Linked DNA regions of Homo sapiens: regions 1 and 2 are each linked to region 3. The links come from fine-mapping of genetic effects on gene expression. A gene starts in region 3. Each other region holds a variant in brackets. All regions are shown on one strand. Distances are between the middles of the regions.

The links.
Region 1: its variant is fine-mapped to the expression of PPP1R3B in whole blood (TOPMed, PIP above 0.99).
Region 2: its variant is fine-mapped to the expression of PPP1R3B in subcutaneous fat (FUSION, PIP 0.95).

Annotation. Positions count from the first base shown.
Region 1 is chr8:9,083,504-9,091,768 of GRCh38, forward strand. It overlaps a transcript of ERI1 not described here. Among named protein-coding and RNA genes, the nearest start is that of SNORD3I, 29 kb to the left of the region's middle. The variant G/A (reference allele first, on the strand shown) is at 5,002.
Region 2 is chr8:9,896,374-9,904,373 of GRCh38, forward strand. MIR124-1HG (MIR124-1 host gene) reads right to left here and starts at 6,956. Exons shown (of 3, transcript NR_024281.1): 1 at 4,316-6,956; 2 at 4,182-4,239; 3 at 3,691-3,913. It overlaps MIR124-1 (microRNA 124-1), which reads right to left and starts at 7,099; the gene lies at 7,015-7,099. It overlaps LOC124902057 (a long non-coding RNA gene), which reads right to left. Exons shown (of 4, transcript XR_007061170.1): 4 at 7,697-7,814. RefSeq lists enhancers at 42-924, 925-1,806. The variant AT/A (reference allele first, on the strand shown) is at 3,432.
Region 3 is chr8:9,147,206-9,155,424 of GRCh38, forward strand. PPP1R3B (protein phosphatase 1 regulatory subunit 3B) reads right to left here and starts at 3,453. Exons shown (of 2, transcript NM_024607.4): 1 at 3,358-3,453. It overlaps PPP1R3B-DT (PPP1R3B divergent transcript), which reads left to right and starts at 4,520. Exons shown (of 5, transcript NR_183348.1): 1 at 4,520-4,711. RefSeq lists enhancers at 2,853-3,801, 3,848-4,087 and silencers at 3,438-3,707, 4,208-4,457.

The sequences.
Region 1 (8,265 bases), 64 kb before region 3:
GCGATGAACCACCTTGTACTCAGTATCCAGCCTTAGCAATCATCAACTCATAATCAATACTGCCTCATGATGCTCACTTTGGCAGCACATATACTAAAATTGAAATGATACAGAGTTTTGCATGGTCCATGTTAAAAAAAAAAAGCGGGGGGGAAGAATACTGCTTCATGCTTGGCACAGTGGTTCATGCCTGTAATCCCAGCACTTTGGGAGGCTGAGGTGGGAGAATTGCTTGAATCCAGGAGTTCAAGACCAGCCAGGACAACAAAGCAAGACCCTGTCTCTATGATTTTTTTTTCTTTTTTTTTGAGACAGAGTCTCGCTCTGTAGCCCAGGCTGGAGTGCAGTGGTGTGATCTTGGCTCACTGCAAACTCCGCCTCCTGGGTTCACGCCATTCTCCAGCCTCAGCCTCCTGAGTAGCTGGGACTATAGGCACCTGCCACCATGCCCGGCTAATTTTTTGTATTTTTAGTAGAGACGGGGTTTCACCGTGTTAGCCAGGATGGTCTCGATCTCCTGACCTCATGATCAACCCGCCTCGGCCTCCCAAAATGCTGGGATTACAGGCGTGAGCCGCCGTGCCCAGCCTAAAATTTTTTTTTTTAGATTTAGCCTGGTGTGGTGGTGTGCACCTGTAGTCCCAGCTACTTGGGAGGCTGAGGCAGGAGGATCACCTGAGCCTAGGAGTCGGAGGTTGCAGCAGTGAGCTTTCGTGGCATTACTGCTTTCCAGCCTGGGAAACAGTGAGATTGAGACCCTGTCTCAAAGAATACCGCCTCATCTATTCCACCACATTTTTGTCCATTCCAACTACATTATTTTGAAATGAATTCCAGAGAGCTGGACTTTATTGCTTTGTAACTTTCTACTTCTCACTGTACCTTTTCTTTGCCCGTAGTGGAATTGTATGGACAGTGGCTGCCCTAAACCTGAACATTGGTTGCCCCACGTTTATCATTGTGTAGTTGCCTGCCTTCCCGATATCAAATCCCCAAATTTGCATTTTCCAGCCTCCCTTAACTCCACAGCTCAGACACTCAACTTCAGTTTGGAAAGTCAGACCTTCTTGCTGCAAGATTTTGACTAGGACTCGGGCTTGGAGGAAGCGGGAGGGGTTGGGTGCATGCCATCAGGTCAGCTCTGCAATGGCATTCTGGGGGCTGCTCCTGGAAGATGACCCAGGAAAATATTCCTCCCTCTTTTTCCAAGGAGTTTGTGAGTACCCTAACTACATTAATAAAGCCCTTCCTTTACACACTAGCTAGAGAGATTCCACTGACTTTTACCAGATAGCTGGACTGATACAAAAGCTGATCATTCTAACCTTCTGAAGAAGCTGAAGTGGAGAGGTGTACACAAGCACTTCAGTCGCTCAGGAGAAAAATGTTGTGATTTGTATGAATATGATGATTTATTAAGTATGGGTTTATGGGACCACCTTATAGCAGTCGTTTCCAAAATGTAATCCCCCCTGCATCCCCCTCCAGCCCACCAACCAACAGCATCAACATCACCTAGAAACTTCTATAAATTCAGATTCTTGGACCTATTCCCAAGACCTCATGAATCAGAAATTTGGGGGTGGGGCCTACCAATCTGCTTTGTAACAAACCCTAGGTGATTTACATCAGCAAATTCCAGCCTGAGGGCTACATTCTGTGCCCACCGCTTTTTTTGTTTTTCTTTCTGTTTTTGTTTGTTTGTTGCTGTTGTTGTTGTTTTGAGACTGAGTCTTGCTCTGTCACCCAGGCTGGAGTGCAATGACATGGTCTCGACTTACTGCAAACTCTGCCTCCTGGGTTCAAGTGATTCTCCTGCTTCAGCCTCCCAAGGAGATGAGATTACAGGCTTATACTTCCATGCCTGGCTAATTTTTGTATTTTTAGTAGGGACAGAGTTTCACCATGTTGGCCAGGCTGGTCTTGAACCCCTGACCTCAAGTAATCACCTGCCTCAGCCTCCCAAAGTGCTGGGATTACAGGCCTGAGCCACCGCGCCCGGCCCTACCATCTTTTTTTATAAATAAATTTTTACTGGAACACAGCCACACTCATTCATTTATGTATTGCCTCTCTCTGCTTGTGTACTAAACTTGTAGAGTGTCGTGGTTGTGATAAAGACTGTAATGGCCCACAAAGCCTACAGTATTTACTATCTGGCCCTTAACAGAGAAAGTTCAGGGCCCCTAATTTAGATTCACTCTAAGTGATGAGACAGTAAAAGTTAGAGGAGGAGTCAATAAGAATTAAACAGGAATATGTGACGCTAATTTATAACAAAGTATAGCTGTTGGGATTGGTGTCCATAAAATGGTGGTCTTTCCTTAGCTGAGGTCTGTGAGACGCAGAACAGCAGGTTTTTTCTAACTTGTTAATGGCAGTCTCCATGCTGAGGACAAATTTAGCAAACTCTTATATGATCAAGATGCTTTTTTTAAAGTGTGTGCATAAGCATGCATGTGTTGGTTTGTGTGTATCTAGAAGATAATCTCTTGAGCAACCAGGAGGAATCACAGAAAAGAGAATTTTATCCTACTATTAGGAAATAACTCCCGTCCTCTTTCAAGTCCTAATTTGTTTGTCTAGACTGCGGCATTTACCATGAATGCTAAAAAAACAGGGATAGCGGGCCAGGTGTGGTGGCTCACACCTATAATCCCAGAACTTTGGGAGGCCAAGGTGGACAAATTGCTTGAGCCCAGGAGTTCAGGACCAGCCTGGACAAGATGGTGAGACCACCAATGCTACAAAAATACCAAAAATTAGCTGGGCATGGTGGCCTGCACCTGTGGTCCCAGCTACTCAGGAGACTGAGGTGGGAGGATAACTTAAGCCCAGGAGTTTGAGACCAGCCTGGGTAATATGGCAAAACCCCGTCTCTACAAAAAATACAAAAACTAGATGGGTGTGGTGATGTGCACATGTAGTCCCAGCTACTCTGGAGGCTGAGGTGGGAGGATCTCTTGAGCCAGGGAGGTCGAGGCTGCAGCAAGCTGAGATCACGCCACGTCACTCCAGCCTGGGTCACAGTGATACCGTCTCAAAACTAGGCAACCGACCAACCAATTCATTCTGTTTGACCCATAGTTTGACTCTTAAGAATGCATTGTAACAAAATAAGTAAGGATGTGTTCAATATTATAGCAAGAAGCCTGTTGGTTTCAGCACTGTTTATAACAGTAAAAAATGAAAAGCAGCCTAAATGTCCTACCTAATCAAAGTGGTTAACTGTGATAAACACACATTATAGAATATTATGTGGCCATTAACATGATGTTGTAAAAACATACATATTGGCTTGGATAAATACTCATACTGTTGACTGAGCAAGAGTGTCAAACCATTATTCTGTATGTTTTCCTGCAATGGACTTACTATTATGTATACCCATTTATATGCCTACATTATAATCTATAAGTGTACACAGGAAAATTCTCAAAATTTTAACTAGTTTTAAACTAGTTAGTGCTGGGCGGTAGGATTCTGAGTAACTTTGACCTCCTTCTCACCTTCTCATCTTATTTTTTTTTTAAGTTTTTTGAATTTTACTTTAAGTTCCAGGATACATGTGCAGAATGTGCAGGTTTGTTACATAGGTTCATGTGTGCCATGGTGGTTTGCTGCACCCACCAACCCATCATCTAGGTTTTAAGCCCCACATGCATCAGGTATTTGTCCTAATGCTCTCCCTCCCCTTGCCCCCCACCTTCATCTTATTTTTATTTATTTTTAAATTATATTTATTATTTATTTATTTTTGAGATGGAGTTTCACTCCTGTTGCCCAGTCTGGAGTGTAGTGGAGCGATCTTGGCTCACTGCAATCTCCGCCTCCCGGGTTGAAGCCATTTTCCTGCCTCAGCCTCCCTAGTAACTGTGGATTACAGGTGCATGTCACCATATGTGGCTATTTTTTTTTTTTTTTTTTTTTTTGATTTTTAGTAGAGACAGGGTTTCAACATGTTGGCCAGGCTGGTCTCGAACTCCTGACCTTAGGCCCACCTCGGCCTCCTAAAGTGCTGGGATTACAGGCTTGAGCCACTGCACCCTGCCCTTATTTTTATTTTGATTTTTATTTTTTATTTTTATACAGTGATCATGTATTCCTTGTGTAATTATATGTGTTTTAATGCACACGCAGATACAGACATCTTAGTTTGGAGATGTAGCAACACATTTCAATAGATAAATTTAGATCCCCTACTTTCTGCTCAAGTTGACATAAATGTCCTCCCCATGCAGCTGGGTGGGAGCATCAGGCCCCACAAGGGTTTGAGGTTCCCTACTTTCACAGAGAGGGAAAGGGGCAGATTCAGGTAGGGACAACACATTAAGGACCCCTTGCTTCTTCCTCATTTCCTGGGTGGGATGGTCAATCACACCAGTATGCCTGGAAGTGAGGGATTTCCCAGGATACAAGACTTTCAGTACAAATAAGGAAAATCCCAGGCAAACTGGGTCCAGTTGATCATCACATTCCTGGCAGATTTAAAAAGAATGGCATATACGCCTACAGGTGCACAGAGCTACATGTGTGACTCACGCTGCGGTATGTGGTTTCATGAGAAGTTACTTATGAAATCATTGCTGATTTCTGATCCTCATGGCCAGGAAAGGAGACAAAATCAGCAGGGTTGAGGTCAGTTCAAAAAGGAGGCCTTCTAACCCCGAAGAAAGCAGAATCCATTTCAGGAGATAACACCTTCTCTTCTCTGCATTTAACACCAGTGCATGCATTTGTTCTGTGTCTGAGCCTCTGTAAATTAAAAAAAAAAAAAAATTAAAGTGTTTTCTGAATAATTCAGGTCAAATTAGCCATTCACTGACTCAATTTCCCACTTTCTTTGCTGTTAAACATTGAACTATTTAATGTCGCTGAAATTGCATTTACGGTATTCCGTTAGCTCAAGTTGTGCCCATTCTGCTAAAGCTCTCGACATTCTTATTATCATTAAAGAGAAAGAGGAAAGGACCAGGAGTGGCGACCGGCAAACCACAGCTT[G/A]TGTGGGAAGGAAATTTGACATGTGATGCAAGCGGACGTTTGTGTAAACTGCTGGGAGATTAACAGTGAGTATCTCTCTGTGTGTTGCCCATCCACCCATTTATAAGTGGTGGGAGAGATGGCGCAGAGGGGGAGCAATGCCCATTCAGCCAGTGCAAGTTGTGGGCTCAGCTGGCTGCTAGTCAGTCATCCTTTGTTTGAAAGCAGCACACTTCCTTTTCACCAGCTGAGTCAGGAGCTGTTCTCCTGGGTAATTTCAGAGAATCCACCTCATTGCTCACATGCACGTCATTGCCTTTGGATTGTAGCATGCTGGAGGGTTTAACCAGGGAGTTGACAATGAGTGTCTCTGCAGAACAGGCCAAACACATTCCCTGACCAGGTCATGCGGGTGAGTTAATAGGTTCACTACGTGCTCCTCCTACCCTGGAGAGCAGCGTGACGTTAGTTCCTAAGCTGCAGGGTTAGCACGTACAGTGTTATGTGGTGGCCTTGGCTTTAGAGTTAGCCAGACTTAGGGTAGAACTGTGGCTCAACCACTTCCTCACTGTGTGATATTTGGCAAGTTATTCGCCATCACTAAGGCTCGGTTTCCTCAAATAGATTAGGGAAATAACATGGTTCCCGCTTCACTCTCCTCTTTCCTTTTCTTCACTGAGTTTCTCTCACCTGTGCTTCTTTGTTGCCTGTAAAACATATAGGCCAAAGGGAAAGATGATTCTGGCATATTCCAGACCATTCTCACCTTCTTTAATTTATTTAATTTTAAAAATATTTATAAATAGAGATGGGGTCTTGCTGTGTTGCCCAGGCTGGTCTTGAACTACTGGCTTCAAGTGGGCTTCCTGCCTTGGCATCCCAAAGTGCTGGAATTATGGGTGTGAGCTACCACACGCAGCCTGGATCTCTTTCCAGTGGGGAACTTAAGATTCTTCTTCCTTTTCTGAGAATGACTTGGACACAAGGGTTTGCAAAGTATGTTCCATAGACCACTGGTGGTTCACTGTGGTCCCCTAGATGATGCAAACTTCAGAGGGAAGAAAATGCCCTATGAGGAGGAAGCAGAGAGGAGCCCCACTGGCTCTGAGTGGAGACTCCTGGCTCTACCTTCAGAACTCCACTCCTGGTCACCATCAAAGTCCTGCCCGGAGCCCACAGATTCCAATCCTATGCTGTTCTCCCCACCTCTTCTTCACTAGCTGTACAAAATGACGAGGTTTGTGTAGCCGGAGCGATGCCTTGGGTTTTTGTTGTTTCCCACCATTAGGAAAAACAGAGGGATTAGGTGGCAGAGTCCGCTTAGCTTTTCAGTGAAGAAATGAAAGGTGTGGCAGGATGGGTTCAGGTGCATTTTGCTGGTGGGAATGGAAATAAGATTGGGAGGAGGAGGATGTGAATGTGAACAATGAGACAGATTCCCTGAAATTATCCAAGAGAACGGCTCCTGACTCGACCGTTGGCAAAGAGGGTGTGCTACTTGCAAAGCAAGGATGACGGCTGAGATGATATCACATTTGCATTTTTTTGGATTGTCATCAGTCTCATTGTGCCATGTTTCCAATCTGCACGTGTGCGGATGTGCAACCGGGAGACACAGACAGGCACCAAGAGCCAGTAATGAAAATCCCACCTTCTCCTTGTAAGCAAACCTTATCCAAGGACCCAGGACACTTGCTTGACCCAATTATGCAGAAACTCCACTGCTTCTTCCTCCTCCTGATATGCTGTGAGAGAGGAAAGGAAGAGGGGCCGACAGAGAAGGGGTGTGGTGAGCTCAGGTGCATTTTGCTGGTGGGAGGACACCTTGGTGCCAACTTGTTCTGTTTCTCCAGTGATGTAAAAGCCTTTCAAAGTTCTCATTGGTTGACCCAATCATTCTAGTTCTAGGAATCCAGCCAAAGGAAATAATCAGCAATGCAGATGAAGATCTATGTTAAGGGTACTTACTCTAGCTTATTGATTATGGTAAAATATTGGAAAAAAATCTACATGACCAGGAGTGGAAAATGAAGTAGAATACGTTGGAATTACACAGTCTGTGAAGATGATGTTTTAGGAGTATTCGTTTTTAAATGGAAAAAGTTACACATGCACACGGTTAAAAGTTTAAATAGGACAAAAGAGAAGAAATGAGAAAGGAAACTCTCTCTGGGGTCCTCCTCTATAGATAAAACTATGTCCTCAGTTATAGATTGTGCTTTAGAAAAGAAATAGGTGAAACAAGAAAATGGTTTCAAAGTAATAATAAGTGGAGGAAAGACACAAGATCAAAAAACAACAACAACACAATAAAACAATGAACTTTCCAGTATAATTGCAATTTGAGAGGCTTGAGAGGAGAGTAAGACAGAGAAGAAATATTCCAAGCTGTTTCTGAGTGATGAAATTTGGGGTAATATTTATTTTCTGTATTTTATAAACTTTTTATAGTGTGTAATATTACTTTCTAATACTTAGCATTTAAGGAGCTAGAAAATTGCATTTAAGTTCAGAATTCAGCAAGGGACACCAATGATCTTCTGAAAATATTTTTTTCCAAAAATCAACAGTCTTTATATTAACACATATATGTTCCCCTATTTTATTTATGTGTAAGTTTAAAATAATGCTGCAAGTTAATTTTTCAAGAACACCCAGAAATTGCATTTTATCTCCCTGTCGGCCCTTCTTCAGCATCTGACTTAATCACCACATGCAAGAAAGTTAGAAAACAACACCACAAGAAAGAATTCTTGGCCGGGAGCAGTGGCTCACGCCTGTAATCCAAGTACTTTGGGAGGCTGAGGCAGGTGGATCGCTTGAGGTCAGGAGTTCAAGACCAGCCTGGACAACATGGTGAAACCCTGTCTCTACTAAAAATACAAAAATTAGCTGGGTGTGGTGGCATGCACCTGTAATCTCAGTTACTTGGGAGGCTGAGGCAGGAGAATGGCTTGCACCCAGGAGGAGGAGGAGGTTGCATCATAGCACTCTAGCCTGGGCAACAGAGCGAGACTCTGTCTCAAAAAAAAAAAAAGAGTTCTTGCCATTATTTGGTGATATTGTGCTCAAATAAAAATGTTTTGCTTATTTTGCATTTCAATGTCAAACACAGAAGTCTGAACTTTGCCTTTCTATAAATGAATCCATCAGGGAAGATAAATTTGACTGTGGTTCTTAGGTCAAGGTCTAATGTTATGAGAGTTTTCAAAAGAATCCCAAGGGAAAGCATCTGTCTGGTTAGCATATGACAGCACTTAAGAACAAATTATTCCCAGTTTCCAA
Region 2 (8,000 bases), 750 kb after region 3:
ACCGAGGTTGCAGTGAGCCGAGATCATGCCACTGCATTCCAGCCTGGGCAACAGAGCCAGACTCCATCTCAAAAACAAACAAACGAGCAAACAAAAAAAGAAAAGAAAAGAAAAGAAAAGAAACTCCATGCCTCTGGACAAGCTAGGCAGGGGCTGAGGATAGAAGATGAACCAGAAACACTGTTAGCCCCCTCCTTTCCTAGGACGCCACTCTAACTAGCCTTTGCCCAGGAGGCCTTCATGCCTAATTGTAGCTTTCAACAGGAAAAGCAGGACAGCTGCTGCTAATTTAATTACATCCAATTTGGGTGGTATTTATTGAGCCTTCTGCGTAAGGCACCTTCTTAACAATGTCCCAGCCCTCCACCACAGTCACCACCCACCTCCCCCCTACGACAAATCTGACCATAGGATTTCCAGGCGGAGAAGAAAACCTCCCACCTCGGGCTTCATCTGTAGGGGCCGCAGTCCAAGCCAGCGGCTCTGACGTTTTGTTTTCTCTGCATTCGGTTCTGATGCCGACACTGCGCAGGTTGTTACGGAACTGCTAGAGATAAGTGTGAGGGCACATTAAGGCATGGGAGGCATTCTTTCCAAGGGGGGAAGGAGAGGAAGCAGACAAAGAAGGGCCTCTGCTGTCGTTAGGATTCTCACTTGTATGTTTCTGTTTCCAGAGCACCAGTGATGGGAAGTGTTTGCTTCTGTGAACTCAAGGCACAAAAAACCAAGGCAAAAGAACACTTTTTAAAGGCTCTCGCCCCCAGTTGCATCAGCTCCATCAAGCAGGGTTGCGCAGTGCAAGGCTGGAATGGTTTCCAGGGCCTCTGTGGGGGACGAGGGGAGAGCTGCCCTCCTCATCTCTGAAAATAGTGCTTTTTCAAGTTTCCCTCCTTGAAATGTGGAATGACATCCTCCAAGCACCCTGTTTGAATCTATGGTGTTATGTATATGTGGTGGCTTTAAGACAGTCTCGGAGGGGCTCCTAGGGAGGTGGGGAGGGGAGCCCTGATGCCGGGGCACCTTGCTTGCTTTTGATGGAAAACTGCTCTCCAAAAATGGCTCCAGAGAAAGCAAATCTTAGGATAGTGAAGCGAGAGTGGAGAAGCTTAGATTCCTTTTTAAATGGAAATTATGTCCACTGCAAAGAAGACATTTCCCTCAAAAGGGGGAAAACGTCTTAAAGACACCTCCGCCAGCTCAGCTAGCGCTGGGACACAAGCAAAATGCCTGACGGGCCGGTAAATCATCTTGGGAGGACAGAGTTTGAATAGAGGGGAAGGCAGAAAAGCAGAAGCCCGGCATAGTGTGAGCTGATTCCAGCAAAGGCTGAGAGCAGCAAGGGGCCTGGGCTATGGGATACATAATTGGCTAACGAATAATAAAGCCAAAATTGGATATTAACAGCAATTAATTTCTGTAGAGGCACTGGGGAAAAGAGCTGCAGAAAACCCCATTGGGCCTTAAGCCGAAGCAATCTGAAATTAAACCAGTGTCTCAATTAAATGGGAATAAATATTGCCACATCAATCTGTGTAGAGTGGGAGGGGGCTGACAGAAGCCCCCCGTGCAGCTCAGGGCACCTTTCTGCACGTCCGAAGCTCTCGGTGGCACAGCCTCAGTCAGGCACATCCTGGTCCTGACCTGTGGCCTGTAGAGGCCACCCGGCCCATGACCTTGAGGCCAGGGCTCTGAAAGTTATTTCAGGGGACGGCCTGTTGACCCAAAGGGACCTTGCATCACTCACTGCACGCTGATGGACCCAACAGATGAGGAAATGGAAGGAATTGAGTTTTTTTTGCAAACAGAGACCGCGTCCTAATGGCAGCAGCGGTTGCATTTGCAAGGAGATTCATGGAGACAGAAAGAGCCTTCTGCGCCTTCCTTCCAACCGACTTCGAGCGGCTCCGTCCCCTCCGGCTTCGGATCTGGAACTAACGCTGACTAAGGCCGAAGGAGGAATGTGTCTTTTTCTTTGTGGGTTGAAGATTTTTGTTGTGGTTTTGGCTTCTGTGGAGAGGGTTGCGGGGGTGGGGAAGGACGGTGTTTGGGGATGGCGAGGACACGTCTCTGGGTCCTGGGGGAAGATGCCCGCTCCCTGGCCGGGTCACTGGGGGTATCCGGGAGAGGAGGCTGGATGTATGGGCGGGGCGTCCTAATGGGGAATCCAGGAGGATGCACTGAGACGGACCCCCCACTCCAGCAAATAAAACCCAACCCCCAAGCGCTTTCGCGGCGGGGTCCTCTTCCCAGGCTGCACCTGCCAGCCCCTCTTTCTTGCAAGTTCTGAGGCTTTCCGGGATGCACGGTGGGGTCCTCGAGGCCGCAGGTACTGAAGTGGATCAGAGAGAGGCCCGGAGCCGCACTGCGGGCGCCGGGCGCACAGGCTGACCGGCTGCACGGCCGGGAGGGCGCGGCTTCTAGGCCCAGGCCTGCGGCTGGGGAGCGCTGTGGGTGGCCAGGGGAGGACGTGACCTCCCGCCCAGGCCTTCGGTCTGGCTCGGCCACCCTTGGAAGCAAAGGATGTACCCTCGTCTCAATTCGTCCCGCTTCCTGCCCCCGACTCCGGAAAAATCTCTAACGTTGACCGTCGAGTGTCCATCTGGCGCTAGAGTGAAATCGATGTGCATGGAAAATGGAAAAATGACCTCTCCGGGGACAGTCCCTGGCGTTTGTAGCCCTGACCTCTTCGCCTCCCCCTCGCCTTAGAACTTGGGCTTGGGGCTCATCCTAGAAAGACCCTGAGACTAACCCGCATCTACCCACACCTCGGATGGATCCAAAGCTTTGGGAACTGCAGGAGGACCCGAATCTTAGGAGTTCCAGGTCTGCATGATTCGGGAGAGAGAGAGAAAGGGAAAAAAAAAATCAAGACTGGGAAATGGGAGCAAAAAAGAAAAGGGAAACCAGCGCCTGCTCATCTTCTCCTTGCTTCATGGAGAAGTCTCGGGTGCATTCGAAGAGAAAGAGACGAGAATGCCTCTTGCGTGCTGGGAAGCGAGTCACTTGAGAAGCCCTGGGCGCGGTCCCGGCCGACGGGGCCCGAAATGGGGCCCGCGCCCACAGTCGCGGAGCCGCAAGTTGCCGCAGAACCGCCCTGGGAACATCACGCGAAGTTGCAACATGCACTTGCAGCGGAAGTATTGCCTCTTGGACCCCAGGTCTCAGTATTTTGTGTGTGCTTAAGCAACAAATAGGTTGGATTTGAATTTCAAAAGAACCCTCCCACTGTAATTTTGAGAGAGAAAGCCCTTAGTGATTCTGGAAGTTTGTTTTCTGGGCTTCCCGGCCCCTGACCCAGGCCCTCAGGTCTTGGTAGCGTTTCTATTTTAAGACAAAAGGGAGAAGGACAGGAAATAAAAAGATGAACCTATTGAGAGTTGCTGACACTTTTATTTCTGACCTGGAACATTCCTTGCCCTCAATAAGGCCTG[AT/A]TTTTTTTTTTTTTTTTTTTTTTTTGAGGCCATCTAAATTTGGTGCTGGAAGATCATTCCAGACCTTCTACACAGCTCTATAAGGCAAAAAGCCGCACACATTGCCTCCCATAAATTCCGTTTGAAGTCCTTTCTTCTATGTCTACATTTGTGATGCAATTAAGTATTGAATACATTTTCTTTAAAAAAAAAAAAAAAGCTGAGATGAGATTGAGAAAGACTTGGCAAAACACCCAATGAAAGAATTGTAGATGGGACTTGGGAAAAAAAGTCTTTATTAGGTACCATCATTCTCATTCTTGTTATTATTGACATCCTCGTCACTGTGAATCAGCCAGCCCAGCCTCCAACACACATACCACCAGCACAACTCCTCATGTTGACTCGTGGGCCCTGAAACCACCCACAGAGTAGATGAGGAAAGGGAGGCTCCATCTGTCCTAGGGAGAACGCTTTGCAGCTGCCCCCAGAAGACTCCATTCTAAGGTTGGAATGGGAGGAGGATATTATGTAAGTTCAAGAGGAGGAAAGAGAAAATGTTTTCTCTGTGGAAGCAGCATAGATGGATGGACTTTTGGTGGCTAAATGCCTTCCTCTAAATGCTAGCATTGGATACGGTTATGCGGGAAAATATATGTGTGCATATGGGCACACCCCTCCTCCGAATATCTCTCTGGCAAAAGCTCCTCATACATTCACAAAAGCCGCCCCCCTCCCTTTGGTAACAGAAGTAACTTACAGGAGTTTACCTTTGCCTCTGCTAGAAGGTCAATCTCTTTTCCGCTTAAGAGGAGATCTGGGCTGTTTCTGGCAGGGGAAAGAAGAGTATCACCAATTTTTCCTTTGACACATTTCTAAATCTGGAAGTATCTGGTAGAGTTACCTCAAGAATCATATAAGCTTGCATCACGATGGGGACTGTGATGGCAGTGGTGCATATGAGCCCATCAGGTCCTTCTTCGCGTATTCAGTCAGCAAACTGCCTCAACCGTGTCCTACTTTTTCTTAAGCATATAATTCCCCTTTCATTTAAGCCAGACTGTAGCTAGAGGGGCTCAAATAGGTAAGAGAGAAGATACTAAAGAGTTAAATGCACTCAAAGGGGAGAACTATTCAGATTTCTTATAAAATTACTGGTGGCATAAATAGGCCCCAAATACAGAAGGGAAGGGCTGACCTTCACTCGGACACCTCATTTGAGCACAGAAGGGGCCTGGCAATTACACATGGGGCCAAGTGGTCTATTCATCTCTTTGCCATTTTCAGCCATTAAAGCCCTACATAAACATACATTTCATAATGAGACCCACCCGGTGGACACAGGCAAATGCCCACACCCATGCGCACAGACCTAATAGACCCAGAACACTCCCACACACATTAAAGCTTTCTGGAACAAGAGTTTACATAAGTAATGAAGTAAAAAATATGCCCCTCCCATCATAGATTATCTGCAGCAGAAACCTGGCAGGCGTCAGCCATGGTACCTGTGGTTTAAGCTCTCAGCTTAAAGCATCTGAAAGGGGCATTACGTGGGAAGGCATCTGGAGGTTTTACAGGAGGGCAGCACATCAGCGAAGGGTACAGCAACCTCTGAAGGAATTACGGGGAAGCAGTTACTAAAAAGAGGCTCGTCAATGTGGACGTTTGTGGGGCAAGGGGTTTAGTAATCGGAGGCTTAAACCATGCCTAAGAGAAGCATCCAGCGGCCTTCACAGTGAGCAGAAGGGGCAGAGCAAGGCGCTTCACACCCCAATAAGGCCCAGCACTGACTGCTTTCTTCTTCCCAAACCTGTCCAGAAAGGGCGGAGGGGACACCAGGACTCAGAAAGCTACTGGTTTCGGGGGAGGTATATTTTGAAGGCAACGGCAAATAGACAAGGGCTTGTGAAGGCTCAGGGGTGAGAGAAGCTGTTCTCCCTTTCTGTCCTGCAGCCAAGCTTGCCTTCTGGGACTCCAGAGGCAGCCCAGCACCTGCAGTCTGCAGGATGTGCACTGCAGCTTTCTCTCTGCGGGGGCAAGCAGGTTGTGCCACATTCTGCAGACCCAGAGAAGGTTCTGGAAGTATCTAGGTGAGGTGCAACACACTTAACCTCTGCCTGACTCTAAACACTGCTTTAGGAGGGCAAATGAAGAGCCTAAGAGTTAATAATTACACAAGGATTGCACACAGTAGGTACTTAATAAATATTTGGGGAAACTGAGGCCGGGGAGGGGCCCTGATCCAAGGCATCACTGAATACTAATTTATTTAGCAGGCTAGACTGAGGCTTTGGAGAGGAAAGAAGTCCTCAGTAAGCTTCAGTGGAGACTCTTAGGGCTTGATTATTGTGTCAGGAATCAAATTAATCTCCTAAGCATCCCTTATGGCCTTGGCCTTGCAAAGCCAGGCCTCTGCCATGCTCGGGGGAAGGGATGCAGCAGGCTTCCTGGGCAGAAGGATCCAGCTCTTGGCCTCCTTTCTCTGCTCCTCCCTCTACTGCAGGGACCTGCCCCTCCTCCATTTCCTCCACCTGGAAATTAATGAGCTTAGGTCTTGCCCCATCCGCTGCAGCTTGGTGGTTAATACAGAGCTGGAAATGGGATGAGACTGTGGCAGCGCAGTACGAGGGGGGTCTCTAGGACCAGCTGCTGCTCAGGGTCTAGTGATGGGAGGAAGGCCTGATTTGGGAAGCAGGTTCTTCAGGATGAAAAGCTTAACCCTTTCCATTCCCTGACAGCCTCTTTCAAAACAGTCTTTCCTCAGACCCCCAGTTGCACACATTCTGTTTTTCCTTCTGTTCACATTTTTAAAGGAACACATGTCTCCCTTGGGTCCATGTAGGTTATTGTGCCTCTCCCTTCCTCTGCAGCTCCTGGATCTCTGCCTGAAACTGCAATAACAGCTACAGGGAGGGCGTGAGGTGCTCCTTAGAGCCATGACCACGCTTTCAACTCCGATAGAGCTTGTGAACCCGCTGGGAGCTGGCTCCTTCTTGTCCACATAGCCCAACGACTTCCTTAAGCTTGTCAGGTGCTCTCAGCTCTACAGCAAAGTGTGACAAACAGCTCCCCCTCTCCCTTCCTACCGCCTGCCCTCCTCCCCAAACCTCAAGCAGAACACAATATATCCGCAGTCCAGGCCCTGAGGCAGTCTGCCAGTCTCTGGATGCCAAATTATTATTTTTTTAAGGGCAAACCAAAAAACTCAGCTCAGAACAAAAACACAGTCACGGAGGAAGGTGTTGACCCACATACAATGAGTCCTGAGCCCAGAGAAAAATCTGCACACACAAGCACTCCGCAATGCGCTCCCAGGCGACCCCCTCCCCACGCACACCGCATCTGTGCTGCACAGATCTGCTTCTGTCACAGAATCAGCTTCTGTTTCTCTCCCTGAGTCTGTTTGCATCTCTAAGCCCCTGTCTGTCACAGGCTGCACACCTCCCCACCCCACGGGCTCCGGTGCGGGACAGGCAGCCGGAGGGAGCTCCAGACCCCTCCCCTCGCGCCCGCGGCCGCTGCGCGGAGGTCTGCGGAGGGCGCCTGGCTCGGTCGGTCGCTCCTTCCTTGGCGGGCCCTCGCCGACCCACGGTGCTCAGCCAGCCCCATTCTTGGCATTCACCGCGTGCCTTAATTGTATGGACATTTAAATCAAGGTCCGCTGTGAACACGGAGAGAGAGGCCTTTCTCCTGAGGAAGGAAAGGAGGAAGGAAGGAAGGAAAGGTGAAAGAAAGGAAGAGGGGTGGGTAGAAGATGGAATAAGAAAACCAGGAAAAAGAAATAAAAAGCGGCGCGTGTGCGTGCGCACTGACAGCGGGGAGAGGGATGGGGGTGGGGAACGCCGGAGGAAGGGACCACAGCATCCTCCCCGCCGCAGCTCCCCCAATCACACAGACAATGAGATAACAGCGACGTCTTCCAAAGGCTCTTTGTTCTCCCCCATCCTTTCGCATCCAGGCTTTTTCCTGCAAAGCGGAGGGGGTGGAGGGATGGGGGTGTGGGTGGAAGTGGGAGACGGAGGGGTGCCTCCCCCGTGTTAATTACCCCGGCTCCCCTCGCCCCTTTCCCCGCGCCTCGCCTCCCCTGCAGCTCCAGACAATGAAAAAACAACATCGACCCCACCTCGCCCCAGCGCAGCAACCCACCCACCCATGTCGCCCTCTGCTTCGCCCAGGAAACTGAAGGGGACTAGGAGGAGGAAGAAGAGAGCGAAGGACAAGGAGAGCAGCGGGGACTCGGCAGCGGCAGCCGGGGCAGGGCGCGCGGCCGCCGCCTCTTTACCTCCATCGCTGAGTGGGGGCGCAGCCGGGCCGGGCGTGCCGCAGGGGCGAGTTGCCGCGGTCCGGGGCTGGGACCTGGGGATTCAGCCTTCCGGAACTCGCCTGCTGCAGTCCTCTCGCTCAGGTCCCAAGTGGTGGAGGGGGGAAAGGAAGAGAGACGAGAGAGAGAGAGACAGAGAGAGAGAGAGAGAGAGGAAGAAGAAGAAGAAGAAGAAAAAAAAACCATAAGAGCGAGGCCCATCTGGCCCCTCATCAGCTTTGTCAAGTCTTGCATACGCTAAAATGCTAATGACCTAGATAGCTCA
Region 3 (8,219 bases):
CATGTCAGGCTGGTCTCGAACTCCTGACCTCATGATCTGCTCCCCTCAGCCTCCCACAGTGCTGGGATTATAGGCATGAGCCACCGTGCCCAGCCTTGTTTTTAAACAAGTACGAAAACCAAACAAGAGGCTATATCTGGCATCCCAGTGCCCCCCACTCTACCCATCCTGAAAAATCTGGGTGTGAACTGAGGGAGGAAGGGTTCCTCTTCACAGCTTCCTCCTCAACTGAGTCAGCACAGGTTATCTGCAAGTTCTCTTTGCACTTCCAAGAAGCCTGCAAACCAGCCTCCTACGTGCTTTTTCTGCATGTTAGGAAAAGCCTTGGAAACTCTCAAGATATTGTGGAAACAGCCAAAGCAAAAGGATCAATCAAAGAATCTACACACAGCCCACTAGAGCCAATGTCCCAAGTTCTAATCCCGCAGGCTGAAGAGACTTAGCTGAAGACCTTGGTAGAGTTTCACTGTTTCACCCCAGTGGCATAAATTTGTCCCTGAGATCCCTTTTTATCACCAAGCTGTAAGAACAAGCAGAAGTCCGGCTTGGAGAGGCCAGGCTCTAGTCAGAGCCAGAGCTAATTAAACAATGCTGCTGGCACTTGAAGGAGCCAAACTGCTATTACAAGATTCTTCCATGAAAGGCAAAAGTAAGGTTATGATGGCTCAAGAGTTACCCGCAGGACTACTACCCCAGGGACATTGCACAAGCAACCCCAGTCTAGAATCCCTTCACTTTGTGTGTCACCATAACTGCAGGTGAGGACATTAACCTGTGTGGCCTCAATCTGGGGTATGACTCGACTGTCAGTCACCTTGCCTGTCCCACAGATAGCTTCCAGATTTTATTTACCAGGTCATTCTCCAAGAATCAGCACACCAAAGTGCTGGTTTGGTGTAGGCTTTCCTGAACTGCTCAGGAACTCCCCAGCGGACTGTGACAGGGATGGCTGCCGCCATGCAGAAGTACTCCTAGCAACTGAGATGTGCAAGGTAATATTAAGTTCCTGAAAAGAAGGCACCTGGACAGGTGCTTCTTTTACAAATGACATGAAAATGATCGGTTCCAACACAGGAAGCACCAGGCTGCAGCCCAGCCTCCTCTCCTGACAGACTCTCTGGCTGCTCCAGCTCTGTCCTTTTCCCAGGCCAGGGAATATGAGTCACCAAAGTTGGCCAAGGGGGAAAAAAAAAGAACCAGAAGTTATGGACATACATTTGAACCATGAGAGCAGGACTCAGGATCTGATACCAGTTGCAGGATAGGAATGAGTGTATGAGTGCTGCTCCCAGGTAGGTATGAATTCTCAAACACTTGCTTCCATAGAGATGCCTCAGAGCTCAGGGATCAGTTTCTCTGGTGAGAGACTGGGCCATGCTTGAGGGTAGATTACAGTGTTCATGGCTAAGACAGGGCAAACCCTAACAGATCATGGAGATAGTTTTGCATAAATGCTTTATCTGTTCCACTCATAACACACCTTCTCAAGACAGCTGGCCAAGGTTAGACGGCCATGGTGATAACTATAGACCTGCACAGAAAATAACCCTATGACCTTCACGGTTTCAGGCAGCTGAACTACTGACTTTCTGGCTGTACCTTTCATAGGGAGGAAATCTTTTTTGTATCAGGGCCACGACATTATCCCCTCCATTCTCTTATTCTCTCTCTCTCTTTCTTCTGGTAAGAAAAGACAAAAAGGCCGGGCGTGGTGGCTCACGCCTGTAATCCCAGCACTTTGGGAGGCCGAGGCGGGCGGATCACGAGATCAGGAGATCGAGACCATCCTGGCGAACACGGTGAAACCCCGTCTCTACTAAAAATACAAAAAAAAAAAATTAGCCGGGCGTGGCGGCGGGCGCCTGTAGTCCCAGCTACTCAGGAGGCCGAGGCAGGAGAATGGCGCGAACCCGGGAGGCGGAGCTTGCAGTGAGCCGAGATGGCGCCACTGCAGTCCAGCCTGGGCGACAGAGCGAAACTACGTCTCAAAAAAAAAAAAAAAAGGCAAAAAAAGGCCGGGCGTGGTGGCTCACGCCTGTAATCCCAGCACTTTGGGAGGCCGAGGCGGGCAGATCACGAGGTCAGGAGATCGACACCATCCTGGCTAACACGGTGAAACCCCGTCTCTACTAAAAATACAAATAAAAATTAGCTGGGCGTGGTGGCGGGCGCCTGTAGTCCCAGCTACTCAGGAGGCCGAGGCAGGAGAATGGCGTGAACCCGGGAGGCGGAGCTTACAATGAGCCAGAGATGGCGCCACTGCACTCCAGCCTGGGCGACAGAGCGACACTCCGTCTCAAAACAAACAAACAAAACCAAACAAACAAAAAAATCAGATGCACAAGCAACCCACCAGGAACACTGAAAGCTGCCGAACTGCATTCAGTAAACATTCACAACCAGGTTATAATTTTCATTTTTAAAGACATGGCCATCTACCTCCCTCCAACAATTCTGTGTTCCCTTCCAAAAGGTTTCACTGATCCAGCATGAAGAGAGTGCATGTCTTTCCCCTTTGTACTCAGACCATGGGGGCCTATTCACAGCCTTAAAGGCTCCTTGTACCCCTTGATCCTGTCCCCATCATCCAAAGCATCTTGGAGACTGACATTTGTGAATACAGTTGCATATTCTAGGAAAGAGGCAAGTTCAAATGACACAGCCCCTGCCGTCTAAAAACGTACGAGGGAAAACAGAGTACTAGGCTAAGAATGCCCGCACCTTGCTTTGCTACTTGAGCGAGTCACTCAGCTGCTCTGGGCTTGAGGTCCCCTCCAAGGTCCCTGCTGGCCCTGACATTGTATGTTGCGACCCACCCCTGGTGCCGCTTCTCTTCCCACTAACTTTTTTTCCTAAATACCTCAACTGTACTTTTGTGTAAGTCCTCCAGCTGTCTTCACTTTAGTTTTGGCTCCTGGACAACTCTGCCCAAGGAAACATTTCCTCCTCTCCTCCTCTTCCTCCCAGACCAAAGCTCTAATTGTCTCTTCTGCTGCACCCTGGGTCTCCCAGGCAGGCCCCCGCCACTCAGACCACAGGTTCCAACACCTTCCAAGTCTCCAAGTTCCCAAGTCCAGTCTTTCCTCTGTTTTCTCCTCTTTTTCAGAAAACAGTGCTCTGACAGGCCCCAAATCTTCCAGTAAGTCATTACCGGCCCCCACTCCCTCTTTTGCAGCTACTGTGCCTTCCACACCCCTTTTTCTGGATTCCAAAGAGACGCAGGAGCAGGCCAGTGCTCTCCAGGCTGGAGGATCCCACAAGTTACTCTCCGACTCTGTCCCCTCCGTCCAGTTTGACCAGGGCTGCACTCCGCCCCCAACCTCCCTACAAGCCTCCTTGGCCTCGCGCCGCACCCACCTTTTGGGCCGCGGAGAAGCCCCCTCCCCAGCTCGCTCGCCGCATCGGAGAGCCCGCAGGGTTGTGGCAAGCGCGACTACGTGAGCGTCGGTGTGTCCGGGAGGCAGGGCCTGGGCTGGGTTCCCGGAGATGTCGGCGGTGGGAGGAAGACGACGAGGAGGAGGAGCCCGTTATCGCACCCGGGCGGGGCCGGCAAAGGGGCAACCCCGGCCGGAGCAAGCAGCGCGACACCAGCACCCCCGCGCGGCCGCCTGGCCTCCGCCAGCCCGGGACGGGGATCGTGCTAGGTCCCGTCGCCCTCGGTGGCCTGAGAGCCTACCAAGTGTATTTCCTCGCGTTTTATAGGGAAAATAAGGCCCGGAGAGAGACGAAGCGGCTTGTCCTTAAGCTCCAAACCCCACTACCCAACTTTGGAGAAGTCTCCAGACCTCTCGGGACCCGGGGCTGGGAACTTGTGCTAGTTTCGAAGCCAGAACAACAGGTGGTAAAGGGATCAGCCGCCGCAGCCGCAGCTCCCGGGTCACGGTCGCAGCCGGGCCCAGCAGCGCGGTGGAGCACGTGGGCCCGGGAGGCGCTTCCCAGCTGCGGTCCCTGGATCGCCCTCTCCACGCTGAAGCAACAGCTCCCTGGGGCCAGCTACCTAGAGTGTTCCAGCCCCGGTGTGCCAGTGCAAGTCGCACGGTGAAAATGTAGGTGACAGGAACCCAAAGAGGTCCCCGCTGCACGCCCTCGCCTTGTTGTCCCCAGCCCTTCCCTCGGACTCGAGACTTGGGGAGCTACGTACCGGGTTCAGCTCATAAGTCCCGAGGGCAGACGCGCCAGCCCGCGGCAGCATACGCCCTGGGGGAACAGGGACAGCTGCCGTGACGGCAGGAGCTGGGCCCGGGCTCGGGTTCGCGCCCCCCGCGGGCGGCGAAGTCCGTCCGTGCACGAGAGCTGCGCGGTCACCTCCTCCCTCCAGCAGTCACCCGGGACTCGAGCTCCCCGCGGCCGCGCTGCCCCCTTTAACTTTCCTGCCAGCTCTCGGGACCCCGGGGTCCATCCCAGGCCCCCTGCCACGTGAACGCCCCCCGCAGCCAATGGGCGCGCCCGGGACTCCAGCCGCCGACCAATGGGCGCGCAGCCACGGCGCTGGGGAGCACCGCTTCGCCACGTGATCGGCAGCGCGCCCGGAGTGATCCGGCTGCGGGCCAGGGTCTGGGAAGGGGGTGGTGGGTCGCCGTTTCATCAGAAGCCGGAGGACGGGCGCCAGGGGGCAACTTCCTACAGGAGGGCGTCCCGTTAGAATGACAGGGCTTTTGCAAAAGTCTGACACCCGTGGCACAGAGCGCCCCAGATATGGAGGGTTTCACAGGTAGGTATACTTCAGAAGAAATTTCCTGACTTGAATCGGTTATAATCGCTATCTAAATCTACAGGGCCTCCGCGATGCATATTATGCACCTTGAGATCTATAGAAAATGGTCTTAGAAAAAGAAAAAAATGATGACCTTAAAGAGTTTGAATCAGAGGCTCTTCCTTTCTTCAGTTTACATGTAACTTGATCTGAACTAGCCACTTTAGGCATGAGGCTACCAGTTTTCTAATTTTAATGACCAGTAGAGTTTTAGAAAAAAATTAGAAATTGATATAGGATTGCCAACTTTTTAAACTGCCAAGAAAGACATGAAAATAAACCCTGCTGTCTTCTATTACTATCCTTTTATTTTTATTTTTTAAAGTACACTTTAATAGCAATAACAACGAAATGCAGGAAGGATGTAATGGCCAGTCTTTCCCATTGGATATATTTAGCTTTCTGAAAACTCATTATGTTGAATATGGCATTTGGGAGTTTCTACTGTAAGGGATACAGGCTCAGCTTCAATTTTACTAGGAATGCAAGCCTAAAACAGTGATCGGTGACAATAATCCAATACAAGCCTTTAGCTCTATAGAGAGCTTCCCCGGAGGGAGTCCTGGTGTCTGAAGAATGATCATTAATCTTCTTCCTTCTTTTCTGATGGGCAGATCTGATAAGGGACCACTTGTGAAGTCAGCTATTGGTAGGTGGTTGGCAAATAGCGTTTCTGTGCAATATTCCCTCTGCCAACTTTAAACCCTCTCTTGTTAGGTGATGAGTAGGTTGAAGATTTTTAAGCCAAGTACTGGCTAAGTTTCTCAGGTGTAGTGAGCATGCTGGAGGAGTGGGCAAAGATGAAGAGCCAAGAGGTATTGCAAAACATATGCAGGCAAAGGGTAATCCGAACCACACCGGGAAAGAGTTGGGACAAGTAAATACAGCTTTGTAGCATTAGGGTTTGGGAGCATTTTTCTTGCATAGATCTAGGAAACCATGGTCAATAATTTCCCCTGTGGTTTAGATGACTTTTTCAGACCAGGAGAGAGGGGTTAAACTTAGTTGTGGTACACCACAGCCTTAGTAGGTAGGAGGGTGTCATCTATGAGTTTGAAAAGAGCACAGTCTTTGCCATCAGGATAGAGCTGAGATGCAAGCTCAGAGGAGGGCTTTACCAGGAGACCCAGCAGTGCAGAGCTCCAGAGCCTGAGAGCTGGACCCACCCTCAGACACGATCTTGCCTCACCCTCTCATTTTATGGCAACAAAGAGAGAAAGTGAAAATGGAAAATTTCAATGCTTACTGCATCAGTCAATGCACACCAAGTTCTTTCTATTATATCTGGCATTGGGTTACAGCTTTAATTTTATTTAACAACCCTCCTCCCCCAACCAAAAAAAAAAAAAAAAATGAAACCAGAAAACAGCAGTGGCTAAGCATAGTAAATTATTATTCTTCCATAAACTGTTCTTTTTCTTTTTTTTTAATTTATTTATTTATTTTTTTAATTTATTTATTTTTTATTGATAATTCTTGGGTGTTTCTCACAGAGGGGGATTTGGCAGGGTCATAGGACAATAGTGGAGGGAAGGTCAGCAGATAAACAAGTGAACAAAGGTCTCTGGTTTTCCTAGGCAGAGGACCCTGCGGCCTTCCGCAGTGTTTGTGTCCCTGGGTACTTGAGATTAGGGAGTGGCGATGACTCTTAACGAGCATGCTGCCTTCAAGCATCTGTTTAACAAAGCACATCTTGCACCGCCCTTAATCCATTTAACCCTGAGTGGACACAGCACATGTTTCAGAGAGCACAGGGTTGGGGGTAAGGTCACAGATCAACAGGATCCCACGGCAGAAGAAGTTTTCTTAGTACAGAACAAAATGAGAAGTCTCCCATGTCTACTTCTTTCCACACAGACACGGCAGCCATCCGATTTCTCAATCTTTTCCCCACCTTTCCCGCCTTTCTATTCCACAAAGCCGCCATTGTCATCCTGGCCCGTTCTCAATGAGCTGTTGGGCACACCTCCCAGACGGGGTGGTGGCCGGGCAGAGGGGCTCCTCACTTCCCAGTAGGGGCGGCCGGGCAGAGGTGCCCCTCACCTCCCGGACGGGGCGGCTGCCGGGAGGAGACGCTCCTCACTTCCCAGACTGGGTGGCTGTCGGGCGGAGAGGCTCCTCACTTCTCAGACGGGGCGGCTGCCGGGCGGAGGGGCTCCTCACTTCTCAGACGGGGCGGTTGCCAGGCAGAGGGGCTCCTCACTTCTCAGACGGGGCAGCCGGGCAGAGATGCTCCTCACCTCCCAGACAGGGTCGCAGCCGGGCAGAGGTGCTCCTCACATCCCAGACGGGGCGGCGGGGCAGAGGCGCTCCCCACATCTCAGACGATGGGCGGCAGGGCAGAGACTCTCCTCACTTCCTAGATGTGATGGCGGCCGGGAAGAGGTGCTCCTCACTTCCTAGGTGGGATGGCGGCCGGGCGGAGACGCTCCTCACTTTCCAGACTGGGCAGCCAGGCAGAGGGGCTCCTCACATCCCAGACGATGGGCGGCCAGGCAGAGACGCTCCTCACTTCCCAGACGGGGTGGCGGCCGGGCAGAGGCTGCAATCTCGGCACTTTGGGAGGCCAAGGCAGGCGGCTGGGAGGTGGAGGTTGTAGCGAGCCGAGATCACGCCACTGCACTCCAGCCTGGGCACCATTGAGCACTGAGTGAACGAGACTCCGTCTGCAATCCCGGCACCTCGGGAGGCCAAGGCTGGCGGATCACTTGCGGTCAGGGGCTGGAGACCGGCCCGGCCAACACAGCGAAACCCCGTCTCCACCAAAACCAGTCAGGCGTGGAGGCGCGAGCTTGCAATTGCAGGCACTCGGCAGGCTGAGCCAGGAGAATCAGGCAGGGAGGTTGCAGTGAGCCGAGATGGCAGCAGTACAGTCCAGCTTCGGCTCAGCATGAGAGGGAGACCGTGGAAAGAGAGGGAGACGGGAGAGGGGGAGGGGGAGGGGGAGAAACTGTTCTTTTTCATGGCTGTTAGTGGTAGCACTGTCCATCTTTTTCCTTGCATTTAGGCTCATGTGTGGCTTCTTCAGTCCTCTCTTCATTCACTCATGTATTCATTTATTCAACGACATATTACTAAGGAACCTCCTTAAGCCGGGATGCTGAACGTGGAAAAATAGGTGAAATATAATTTTACCCCTGAGAAGCTCATAGGCTAAAAAAAATATTGATTTGGGATAAATGTATGTTAAGGTAAGTCTCTGTGTTAGGGGAGTTAAGAGGAAGACCTTGTGTGTTTAGCAGCAGAGTTGGGGGGGGAATGGGGATGACCAGAGGCTGATCCTATAGATGTGATCATTGGGATCCTGGAGGAGGAGTTAGAGTTAAAGGGTCATGTCAGGGAACATGGCAGGAATTGGCAAAGACGCAGAGTTCGGTAAGTACCCAGAGAATTTCCACTGTGCTGATTAAAAGTTAGGTCCTCTTTCTGGCTTAAATATTAAACAGTGTTCCTTTATACATGTGTT